2 linked regions of the Homo sapiens genome follow. The protein of the gene in region 2 binds, or shares a complex with, the protein of the main gene of each other region. Each region holds a gene or a part of one and is shown on either strand. Other genes may lie near its edges. The genes, in order: SYNRG and AFTPH.

What was found.
Region 1: AFTPH (region 2) and SYNRG share a complex: the UniProt entries of both Homo sapiens proteins name them as parts of the aftiphilin/p200/gamma-synergin complex.

The regions. Positions count from the first base shown.
Region 1 is NC_000017.11:37,599,324-37,606,626, forward strand, and holds part of SYNRG (synergin gamma), read right to left. Parts: intron 1,081-7,303; coding exon 1,040-1,080; intron 1-1,039. UniProt on the Homo sapiens protein: Plays a role in endocytosis and/or membrane trafficking at the trans-Golgi network (TGN). May act by linking the adapter protein complex AP-1 to other proteins. Component of clathrin-coated vesicles.
Region 2 is NC_000002.12:64,590,025-64,593,505, forward strand, and holds the end of AFTPH (aftiphilin), read left to right. Parts: intron 1-1,860; coding exon of another isoform or gene 1,861-1,863; coding exon 1,864-2,011; 3' UTR 2,012-2,981; downstream 2,982-3,481. UniProt on the Homo sapiens protein: Component of clathrin-coated vesicles.

The sequences.
Region 1 (7,303 bases), on a different chromosome or scaffold from region 2:
CCTTCACTACTATTTCCTTGAAGATAAAGCTAGAATTGATATTGGTGGGTCCTAGTCTGAGACCAAGAGAGAAAAGGTATACTTAGAGAAATTTCTAGGAATAGAACTGAGACTTGGCCGGATGTGGTGGCTCATGCCTGTAATCCCAGTGCTTTGGGAGGCCAAGGCAGGAGAATCGCTTAAGCCGAGGAATTTGATACCAGCCTGGGCAACATAGGGAGACCCTGTCTCTACAGAATATTTAAAAATTAGCCAGGCGTGGTGGTATGCACCTGTGGTCCCAGCTACCTGGGAAGCTGAGGTGGGAGGAATGCTTGAGCCTAGGTGGCTGAGGCTACAGTAAGCTATGACTGTGCCACTTATACTCCAGCCTGGACGACAGAGCAAGAGACTCCATCTCAAAAATAAAAATAAAAAACCAAACAAAATCCTGAGACTTAAATACTTAAGCTGAATCAGACTATGTGATCTCTTTTAATTTCAAAATTATATATTTATAAAACATGATTATAATAAGATACTATCATATAGATAAAAAATAGCAGTGTAAAACAACTAAAGATGTTTGTTTATTCATTCAACAAACATCTACAGATAACCTATTGTGCTGAATCAACATGCTGGGTGCTACAAATAATGCTAGATGAGCATTAGACAGACATGGCACTAACAATCTAGCAGAAGACTAGATAGAAGGAGAAAGACATCATTAAGTGAATTACAGCTCGTTTCATTTTTATCACCTGTTCTTTAACATTCTTGTCCTAAAAGTCTTTCACCTCTGAGGTTAAACAATCTATGAACATAATGTCTATGTAAGTTTGGGAGAAACGAGGAGTGATCCTTATTACTCCCAAAATTATATAATTTTTGAGAAAATTTAAGAGTAGCTGTCATATAGGACATACAGGTTTAAGAGTGCAGAAAATTTTACTCTATTCAGCAGCAACAGAACTTATTTTCTATTTACTTATTTAATTCCCAGATTCAGAAACACAAGAGTGAAAAATAAAAGTTCAAAACTTAAGCTCTCACATACCTTGAGGGGGTCTTATCCCACCTGCAACAGGAAACATGAAGCTGAAAACAGAATAAAAATACATTATAATCTTCGTATGTACAAAGATTTCAAATAACACGTGTACTTTTTTATATGGATAAAAGACTTGTAGATGGGACCTGGTGTTTGTTCTGCACCACAATACTGAATTGCCCAACATCAGTACACTGAGCATCCATAGGATGCATGTCAGCATGCTACTGCAGACGGAAACTTGTTGAAACAAAAGACAGAAGACCCTGAAATTAGTCCTGGCTCTGTCACTTCGTGTCCTCTCTGGATTCCAGTTTCCCCATCTATAAAATGAGAGAGTTTAGATTCAATTCAGTCAACATCTATTGAGTGTCAACTACATGAAATGATGGAATCTTATAATCAAAAATACACATATGCAGGCAAATAACTATACCACAGGGTAAATGTGCTAACTGCTATAAGCGAGGTCCAAATTATTAATAGAGATGAGAAGAAAAAGATGAATTTTAATGGGCTATATCTTGAGAAGTTTTATGGAAGTAGCTCTGGAGCTGAATCTTGAAGGAAAATAGAAGCACACTATATATTTTGAGCAAAAGCTCTGAGGCAGAGATGCAGGGATGTTTGGAGAAATGAATGTAGGTTAAATGTTAACTATATGATTTAAAAGCAAGCAGATTGTACAGGGCCTTTATTTTTATTTTTATTTATTTATTTATTTTTGTGAGATGGAGTTTCGCTCTTGTTGCCCAGGCTTGAGTGCAATGGCGCGATCTTGGCTCACTGCAGCCTCCACCTCCTGTGTTCAAGCAATTCTCCTGCCTCAGCCTCCTGAGTAGCTGGGATTACAGGCACCCGCCACCACGACTGGCTAATTTTTTGTATTTTTAGTAGAGGCAGGGTTTCACCATGTTGGCCAGGCTGGTCTCAAACTCCTGACCTCAGGTGATCCACCCGCCTCGGCCTCCCAAAGTGCTGGGATTACAGGTGTGAGCCACCGCACCTGGTCAAGGGCCTTTAAAATGTTTCATTTTATTTTGAATATTATATGAAGTTGTCAGAGGTTTTATTGTTATTGTGGTAACATATACATAACATAAAATTCTATCATTTTTAACCATTTTTAAGTGTATAATTCCATGGCATAATTAAGGACATTCACAATATTGTCAACCATTACCACTATCCATTTCCAGAACCTTTCCATCATCCCAAACAGAAACTCTGTACCCATTAAACAATAAGTCCTCATTTTAGAGCGTAAGAAAGCTCTCTTCTAAGGTTTTTTTTAAGCTGACAACTTTATTTTTATTTTATTTTTTTGAGACGGAGTTTGCTCTTGTCGTCCAGGTTGGAGTGTGATGGCATGATCTCAGCTCACTGCAACCTCCGCCTGCCAGGCTCAAGTGATTCTACTGCCTCAGCCTCCTATGTAGCTGGGACTACAGGCGAGCACTACCAAACCTGGCTAATTATTGTATTTTCAGTAGAGACAGGGTTTCACCATGATGGCCAGGCTGGTCTTGAACTCCTGGCCTCATGATCTGCCTGCCTTGGCCTCCCAAAGTGCTGGGGTTACAGACATGAGCTACGGCACTTGGCCTAGGCTCTTTTGAATAAAGGTTAAGCCTGGGCGACAGAGTGAGATTCCGTCTCAAATAAATAAATAAATAAAGGTTAAAAAGTTAAGCTCTGGCCAGGCGCAGTGGCTCACGTCTGTAATCCCAGCACTTTGGGAGGCCAAGGTAGGTGGATCACCTGAGGTTGGGAGTTCCAGACCAGCCTGACCAACATGGAGAAACCCCATCTCTACTAAAAATACAAAATTAGCTGGGCATGGTGGTGCATGCCTGCAATTCCAGCTACTCAGGAGGCTGTGAGGCAGGAGAATCACTTGAACCCAGGAGGCGGAGGTTGCAGTGAGCCAAGATCGCGCCATTGCACTTCAGCCTGGGCAACAAGAGTGAAACTCCGTTTCAAAAAAAAAAAAAAATTAAGCTCTGGTTGTAGATGAAATAGCCAAGGGCATATATCCAGTAACAAAACAACTAAGGACAAACTTGGAGAATTCTTGCAGTGAAAACTGAGTAGGAAATGGTCATTGAAAACCAAGGGAGTGCTTATAACTGAGAGTTATAACTGAAGAAGGACCACATTTCAACAAGGAAGTAGTTACCAGTGTCTAATGCTGTAGAATAGCGGTGAGAATGAAGATTAAAAAATAAATCACTGCTTTCAAAAATGGTGATTGTTAAGTGAGTTAGTTTCAACAAAGAAAGGGGAAGAGACCCTAGGGAGAAAAAATTTAAGAGACAAAATACATACCTAGTGATTTATAAGGTTTTTAAGGAAATGGGATTAACACGCGAAGGAGCAAAAGGGGGCCAGATGAGGTGGTGCATGCCTGTAATCCCAGCACTTTGGGAGGCCAAGGCAGGCGGATCACTTGAGGCCAGGAGTTCAAGACCAGCCTGGTCAACATGACAAAACCCCATCTTTACTAAAAATACAAAAATTAGCCAGGCGTGGTGGCATGTGCCTGTAATCCCAGCTATCCAGTAGGCTGAGACATGAGCATTGCTTGAACCCAGGAGGCGGAGGTTGCAGTGAGCTGAGATTGCCCCACTGCACTCCAGCCTGAGCAGACAGAATGACAGAAGGAGACTCTGTCTCAAAACAAAACAAAACAAAACAAAGTAGCAAAAGGGATCTGCTTTGAAAAGGAAGTGGGACTTCTTTCTCTGAGCCTGGAAAGAAAAAGGGACAAATCAAGGAAGACTTCTGAGTGAGAAAGGCTCTTAATCCGGGAGTCAAGGATCTGAAAAGGAGGTTTCTAGATACTCTTTAGAGAATCTAGTGAATGGCTGGGTCTGGTGGCTCACACCTATAATCCCAGCACTTTGGGGGGCCAAAGTGGGAGGATTGCTTGAGCCCATGAGTTTGAGACCAGCCTGGGCAACATAGTGAGACCTCATCTCTCCAAAATAATAATAATAACAACAACAACAACAATAAATAACATAAAAATTATAATGGTGATTCTTTTCCAGAAAGTTTTCAATTTACTGTGTCCAGTTCCATCAAAAGAATCACTATCTATGGGCGTTATAGCCTTAGATATAGCCTTACAATGAATTTCTCAAATAATAAGAGATGAAAGAAGAAATTACTCCTTGATTCATGGAGAATGGATGCCGCTTTAGCAGACATGAGAACATTAACCTTCTCATGCATTGCCATCAGAGCTCTTGGGTGACCAGGCACATTGTCAAGAAGCAGTAACGTTTTCAAAAGAAACTTTTTTCTGAGAAGTAGGTCTCAACAATGGGCTTAAAATACTCAGTAAACCATGCTGTAAACAGATGTGCTGTCACCCAGGCTTTGTGGTTCAATTTATGGACTATAGGCAGAGTAGATTTAGCATACTTTTGAAAAGCCCTGAGATTTTCATAGTGGTCAGTGAGTATTGGTTTAATTTAAAGTTACCTGCTGCATTAGGCCCTAACAAGACAGTCAGCCTGTCCTTTGGTGCCAGACATTGACTTCTCCTCTCTAGCTAGGAAAGTCTTAGATGGCATCTTCACCTGCATTGAAAATCTGGCCAGGTATGGTGGCTCATGCCTGTAATTCCAGCACTTTGGGAGGCCGAGGTGGGTGGATTACCTGAGGTCAGGAGTATGTGACCAGCCTGGCCAACATGGTGAAACCCTATTTCTACTAAAAATATAAAATTAGCCTGGCGTGGTGGTGCGTGCCTGTAATCTCAGCTACTGGGGAGGCTGAGGCAGAAGAACCACTTGAACCCGGGAGGCGAAGGTTACATTGAGGCGAGATCACGCCACTGCACTCCAGCCTGGGTGACAGAGTGAGACTCTGTCTATAAAAAAAAAAAAAAAAGAAAATCTATTGTTTAGCGTAGCCACCTTCATCAATGATCTTAGCTCTTCTGAATAACTTGCTAAAGCTTCTACATCAGCACTTGCTGCTTCACCTTGTACTTTTTTGTTATGGAGATAGCTTCTTTGCTTAAACCTCATAAACTGACCTGTTAGCTTCCAACTTTTCTTCTGCAGCTTCCTCACCTATTTCTCAGCCTTCAGCCTTTACAGAATTGAAGAGACTAAGGATCTTGCTTCAAATTAGGCTTTGGCTTAAGGGAATGTTAAGGGTGGTTTAATCTTCTATCCAGACCACTCACCCTTTTTCAATATCAGCAATAAAGCTGTTTTACTTTCTTAACATTTGTGTTTCCTGGAATAGGACTTTTAATTTCCTTCAAGAACTTTTCCTCTGCATTCACAACTTAGTTAACTGGTGTAAGAGGCCTCGCTTTTGACCTACCTCAGCTTTCAACACTTAATGACTAAGCTTTATCATTTCTAGCTTCGGATTTAAAGGGAGAGATGGGCGACTCTTCCTTTCACTTGAACACTTAGAGGCCACTGTAGGGTTAATCAGCCTAATTTCAATACTGTTATGTCTCAGGGAATATGGAGGCCCTTGGAGAGGAAGACCGGGGAACAGCTGGTAGGTAGAGCAGTCAGACTGCACAAAACATTTATCAATTACGTTTGCTGTCTTATACGAGCTGGGTTTGTGGTGCTCCAAAACAATTACACTAGTAACATCAAAGATCACTGATCACAGATCACCATAACAAATAATAATAATGAAAGAGTTTGAAATATTGTGAGAATTACCAAAATGTGACAGAGACATGAAGTGAACACAGGCTGTGGAAAAATTGCGCGGATAAACTTGCTCAATGCAGAGTTGCCACAAACCTTCAATTTATAAAAAACACTGTATCTGCTAACTGCAATGAGGTATGCCTGTATTCAGTTTTTAAAGACATTACTCATATGCTAAAATTGATACATTCAGGAGCAATGAATACATTTAAGTAATCAAGCTGTCAAGATTTTTAAAAATCAGGCTTAAACATTTAAATTAGTCATATGGCCTAGAGGCTCAAAAGAATTGGAAACTCGTGTATATTTTCTTTCTTCCAGCTTTGCCATAAAGTAACTGTGAAGCTCTGTGCAATCTCCTTTACCCCCTGTCTGGTTTCCCCTCTGTCAAATGAGGACGTAGAATCAAGGCTGCTAAAGTCTCAGCTAAGACAATCACATAGACATGAATACATAAACAGATGTATAAAGGTTACTTTGAAAATGAAATAAAAACAAAATACTGTCAAACATGACTTTCTCTAGTAAGAATTTAGCAAATCGAACTGCTTAGTGACCTATGAAAAATTCATATTTTTCTCTGAAATGTTTAGACAACTAATAACAACATGCTTAAAGATTGGTTAGATAAGCAGTTAAGGCATTAATAAGACAGTAAAAGCTTGGCAAAAAACTGGGCAGGAAGGTGACCAACAATTTAATTTCAAAGGTAAAACCACTAATTCTTATATTACTGACATCTCGGTATGAAAGCAGAGCTCTGTCACTTACCTATCTCATCCGTCCCTCCTTTTCAGTTACCTTTGCTACTAACCTAGATTTGACACTAGGCTTCACTTCTTAGGCCTAAACTCCTACATAAAGACTTCCTAATGGATCTCCCCACCTCCAGACTCTGGTTTCTAATTCATCTGATGCAGCACAAGTGAGAGACATCTTTCTAAATGATGGACCATTACGCAATAATTAAATGGTCCTTTAGCAAGACGCACCCCTGAAGTTAAAACTATGAAATGATTTCCCTGAAACTGAATTTCCTTAGTTTAAACTCAAGGCCCTCTCTAGTTTGGGCACAACTCTACTTTGCAGTTTTATCTCACAAAACTCTTCTCTGCCACTCAGAGCCACAGTCATCTGGCACTGCAGGTACATCGTTTCCTTAGTGTTGACTAGGCCTTCCCATCTCTGTGACGATCTCTTGACCGCTTCCTCTTCCTCTAACTCTGTGGGCCAAATGAAATACCACTTCTTTGCCTTTGATATAGCTGAAATCCACAAATATTTACAGAATGTTTTTTATGTGCAAAAATGTGCTAGAAGCAGTGAAAGAAGAAAAGATGAGGAAGCCCTCTAAAAGCTTGTAAAAGATCAGGAAAAAATAGACAAGTTCACAGATGATAACATCCCAGAAGAACGTGACCTCTTTGTTCCACTTTACTTTGTACCACAGTTATTTTGTACATTCTCCAAGGATGGGGACCATGTTTTGATGTCTTTTTAATTCATTACAGCATCAAGAACAGTACCTTACCCATGTAAGCATTCAATGACTACAGACTAATCCAGATCTTTCAAC
Region 2 (3,481 bases):
GTCAGTGATCTCTGTCCATTTCAGTGAGTTTTCATTTCATCTACTTAGGCTATATTCAGATTTCTCCAACTATCCTTTCTCAGCTTTGTACAAACCAGTATTCAATTGAAGACTATTGTACCTGGCTGTTGGGGCTCTTAAGTCCCTTTTAACCTAGCATATCTCCTCATTCCTTCTGTTTTCTTATTAACAGTAGCTTATATAAAGATTAGTATAGGTGTCCTACAGAATGTCCTAAAAGCTCTGGATTTGTCTGTTTGCTTCCTTCAAGTAATATTTGCTGTGTTCTCTATCTCCCTATTTTCCTGTAAATTGGAAATTATATCTAAAGGCTTGCTGAATTCAGGGTAAATATTTTGGCTAGAATGCATCCTAGGTGTTATATCACATCAGAAGATCCATACATCTGGTTGACTCCATTGTTAGTGGTGCTGAGATTGACGATTGGTGAGAAACTGACCTTTTCCATTATACAGTTCCAGGTTTTCACTTGTCATGTATCTGGTTTTACTTTGGAATGATGCAGATATCCAGTTCCCCATCAAACGTCCACATAATAGTTTTGCCACTATTTAAGTGCAATTAAAAATGTAGATTTTCATCAGAAAAAAATGTTGGATTGCTATTCCATTCTTCTAAGAACCTAGTACTGAATGCAGTATTTGGTTCATCTGCTATATGCCTGATGCTTTTTCCCTTTTGAAAAACTTTAGTCCTAAAAGTCGTTGGATTTTTCATTCATTCTATAAAATCTTTTTATTTCAGTCTGGATTCAAAGTGGTAACAGAAAAGTCCTAGGAATAAAAAAGCCTGTAGCTATCCTTCCTTTCTTGCTTTACCTCCTGGCTTCCTGCACCCCATCCAAGGAAAAAGGAAACATTTAGGTCAAAGAAATACCTTGTGTCACATCTAAGAATACCAGCTATCCTTTACCATAAAAGAGAATTATTAGGCTTTTTATAATGAACAACTTGAAATGATTTTTGGTCTAAAGCGAATAATATGTATAACTACTCCTTTAATATATTTAATATCCCAGAAAAAGTTTGAATTGCAATCATGTGCCCAATTTGAGGCTCATTTGGCATTTTCTGTGGCTCACCTGCTGAGTAGACCTGGGTCACCAGGCATTTTCTTGTCTGTGTTAGGCACCAAACTGCTAATTTCCCATATCGGGGGCCAGTGCAGCAAAATCTACTTCATCTACAGGACCCATAGGATTTGAGATTTCCCTCACCCAGAGTTCCGTCCTGCCTGTGTACGTGCATAATAACACCAGCAACCAGCCCTAGTGCTGCTGCTTTTGGACCTGCTGTCTGTATCCCAACAGGCTGAGACTGGGTCTTCTGAGCTGAGAGCTTTCTCTCCTGGAATTCCCCACTGGGGATAAAGAGAGCCTGAGGTTAAAATGACTTAGTCTTTCCCTGGGCACACTTTGTTTCAGGCTGAGGTAGTTTTAGCGGGTGGAGGGGCAGGGAAAAACCCAGTTAGGTGGAGTGTTACTAAGGCTTCAGATTTATATTTCTGTTTAGTAACATTTTAAAATTATGCCTGGGTAGATGCTTCTAGCCTAATGTAAAGGCTAGAAAGTACACGAGCTGTCTAGGTGTGCATGTGAGTATCTGTGTGTGCATGCCTAGCTTTAATGAACATAAATAGGCCGCACGTCACTCTTCATGAGATTTGGCATTTGGCACAGGAAGCATACTGCACAAAAGTATTACAAGATTCAGGAACTAGCAGAGGAAAAAATACTCAAGTCCCCACAGATTGCTAACTGTCTACCTTGAGAGTGGATTGTCTCCCATTTTACCTACAGCAAAGTCACATTAACACACTTGTCTTTTTTTCATTTGTCAGTAGGAAACCGAAAAGAGAAGAGCACCTAAGTGAAGAAGCTATCAAGGTGATCGCTGGCCTTCCTGACTTAACATTCATGCATGCCAAGGTGTTGATGTTCCCAGCCACGTTAACACCTTCCACAAGCTCTCAAGAAAAAGCAGACGGATAACTGATGTGAATTGGACAGTTTCTATTGCTTTTCCTTTTTTCCATCCCTTCCCTACCATCAAAAGCATACCTGCTCTAATTAAAAAAAAAAAAAAAAAAAATTCAAGTTCAGCTGATTTGTTGGTAAGCCGCACTAGAAAGGTATACATAGTAATGTATATTTATTTACATACTGAAGTCCTAAATTTATATTAGAAAAATGTAAATAATCGGGGGTAAACATTTTTGAAGATTTATTCTTTTTGTGTTGCTGGGGTGTATACATTTATGTCTTTGTGAAATACACTGGTGGTGTCCTTCTTACAAAACTTTTGAAATAAAAAAAAAACTCAAATCTTCACTGTCTGTGAAATCCCCTTCAGTCTTTTCAGATTGCATTGACTGTCCTCTTGATTTTTCATATTACATGTCAAATTACTTTTGCTATCATAAATAAGCTCCAAAGTCCCCCATTTAATTTTTTTTTAATTTTGTGTATGATGGGTTTCAGATCTGGCTTTTGTTAACATTTTGGGGCTTTTTTAATCTTTTCAATCTGGCGTATTGCTGTTTGACCTTTTGCAAGGTACTTAATTGCTCTTTTGTTATAGGGTATGGATCATTGTCAGAACTTGATTGGAGGGGTTTAAAGAGATTGTGTCTGTTTAAAATCAGTATGATTCAGAGAAGGACCAAATTATATGAATGTCTTACAATGGAATTTACTTGTTACTGATTTTTTTGTTCTATTGTACCACTATTTTTTGAGGATTTTGCACAGTGTAAAATGACATAATCATAGATTGCTATGGTTTAGGCTGTATATACAGTGAAAACTATGGGTTTTAAATGTTTGGGGAAATTCCTATGGAAAAAAGAGAGACATGTAGAAGAACCTCTAACAAGGTTAATGTGCATGCCCAAGGTCTTTTGAAATTTCAGTGTGTAAATTTCCTTTTAGCTTATACAAAAATAAAATAATTTAAAAGAAATTTAGCCTGGTGTCTTTGTACTTTGGTATGTGAGGAAAAATGTAATGAGTTTGAATGAGAAGTTTTGTTGAATATTAACATATTTCAATCCAGAGAAAATCTTTGGTAGGGCTTCTACTTTGTTGAAGCCAGGAAGAATTAGAATCTGGCCTATAAGAATTGGATCAGCACTTTTAGTAGCTGAGCTGTTTGTTTTTATATAGAACATGAGATCAGTAAAGAAATTCCCATGATTCATTATAATGTGTCTTCATCAGAGTATTGGCAAGGTTAAATAGGGATTTGTAGGGATTTTTTTTCTTTCCAAGAATATATAAGCGTGAAATGAAGGTAGGCAGAAAAAGTCTAAAAATTTTAGAATATTAGATATTGCTTCAGCAAAAAGTCACATGACATTGCATCAGGAACAGGCAGTCAGCTGACAGTCGGCCTCATCCACTCTGGGAATGTGCCAGTGGAACTCCTGCACCTCTGTCATTGGCAGATTCCTGTGTTGCCAG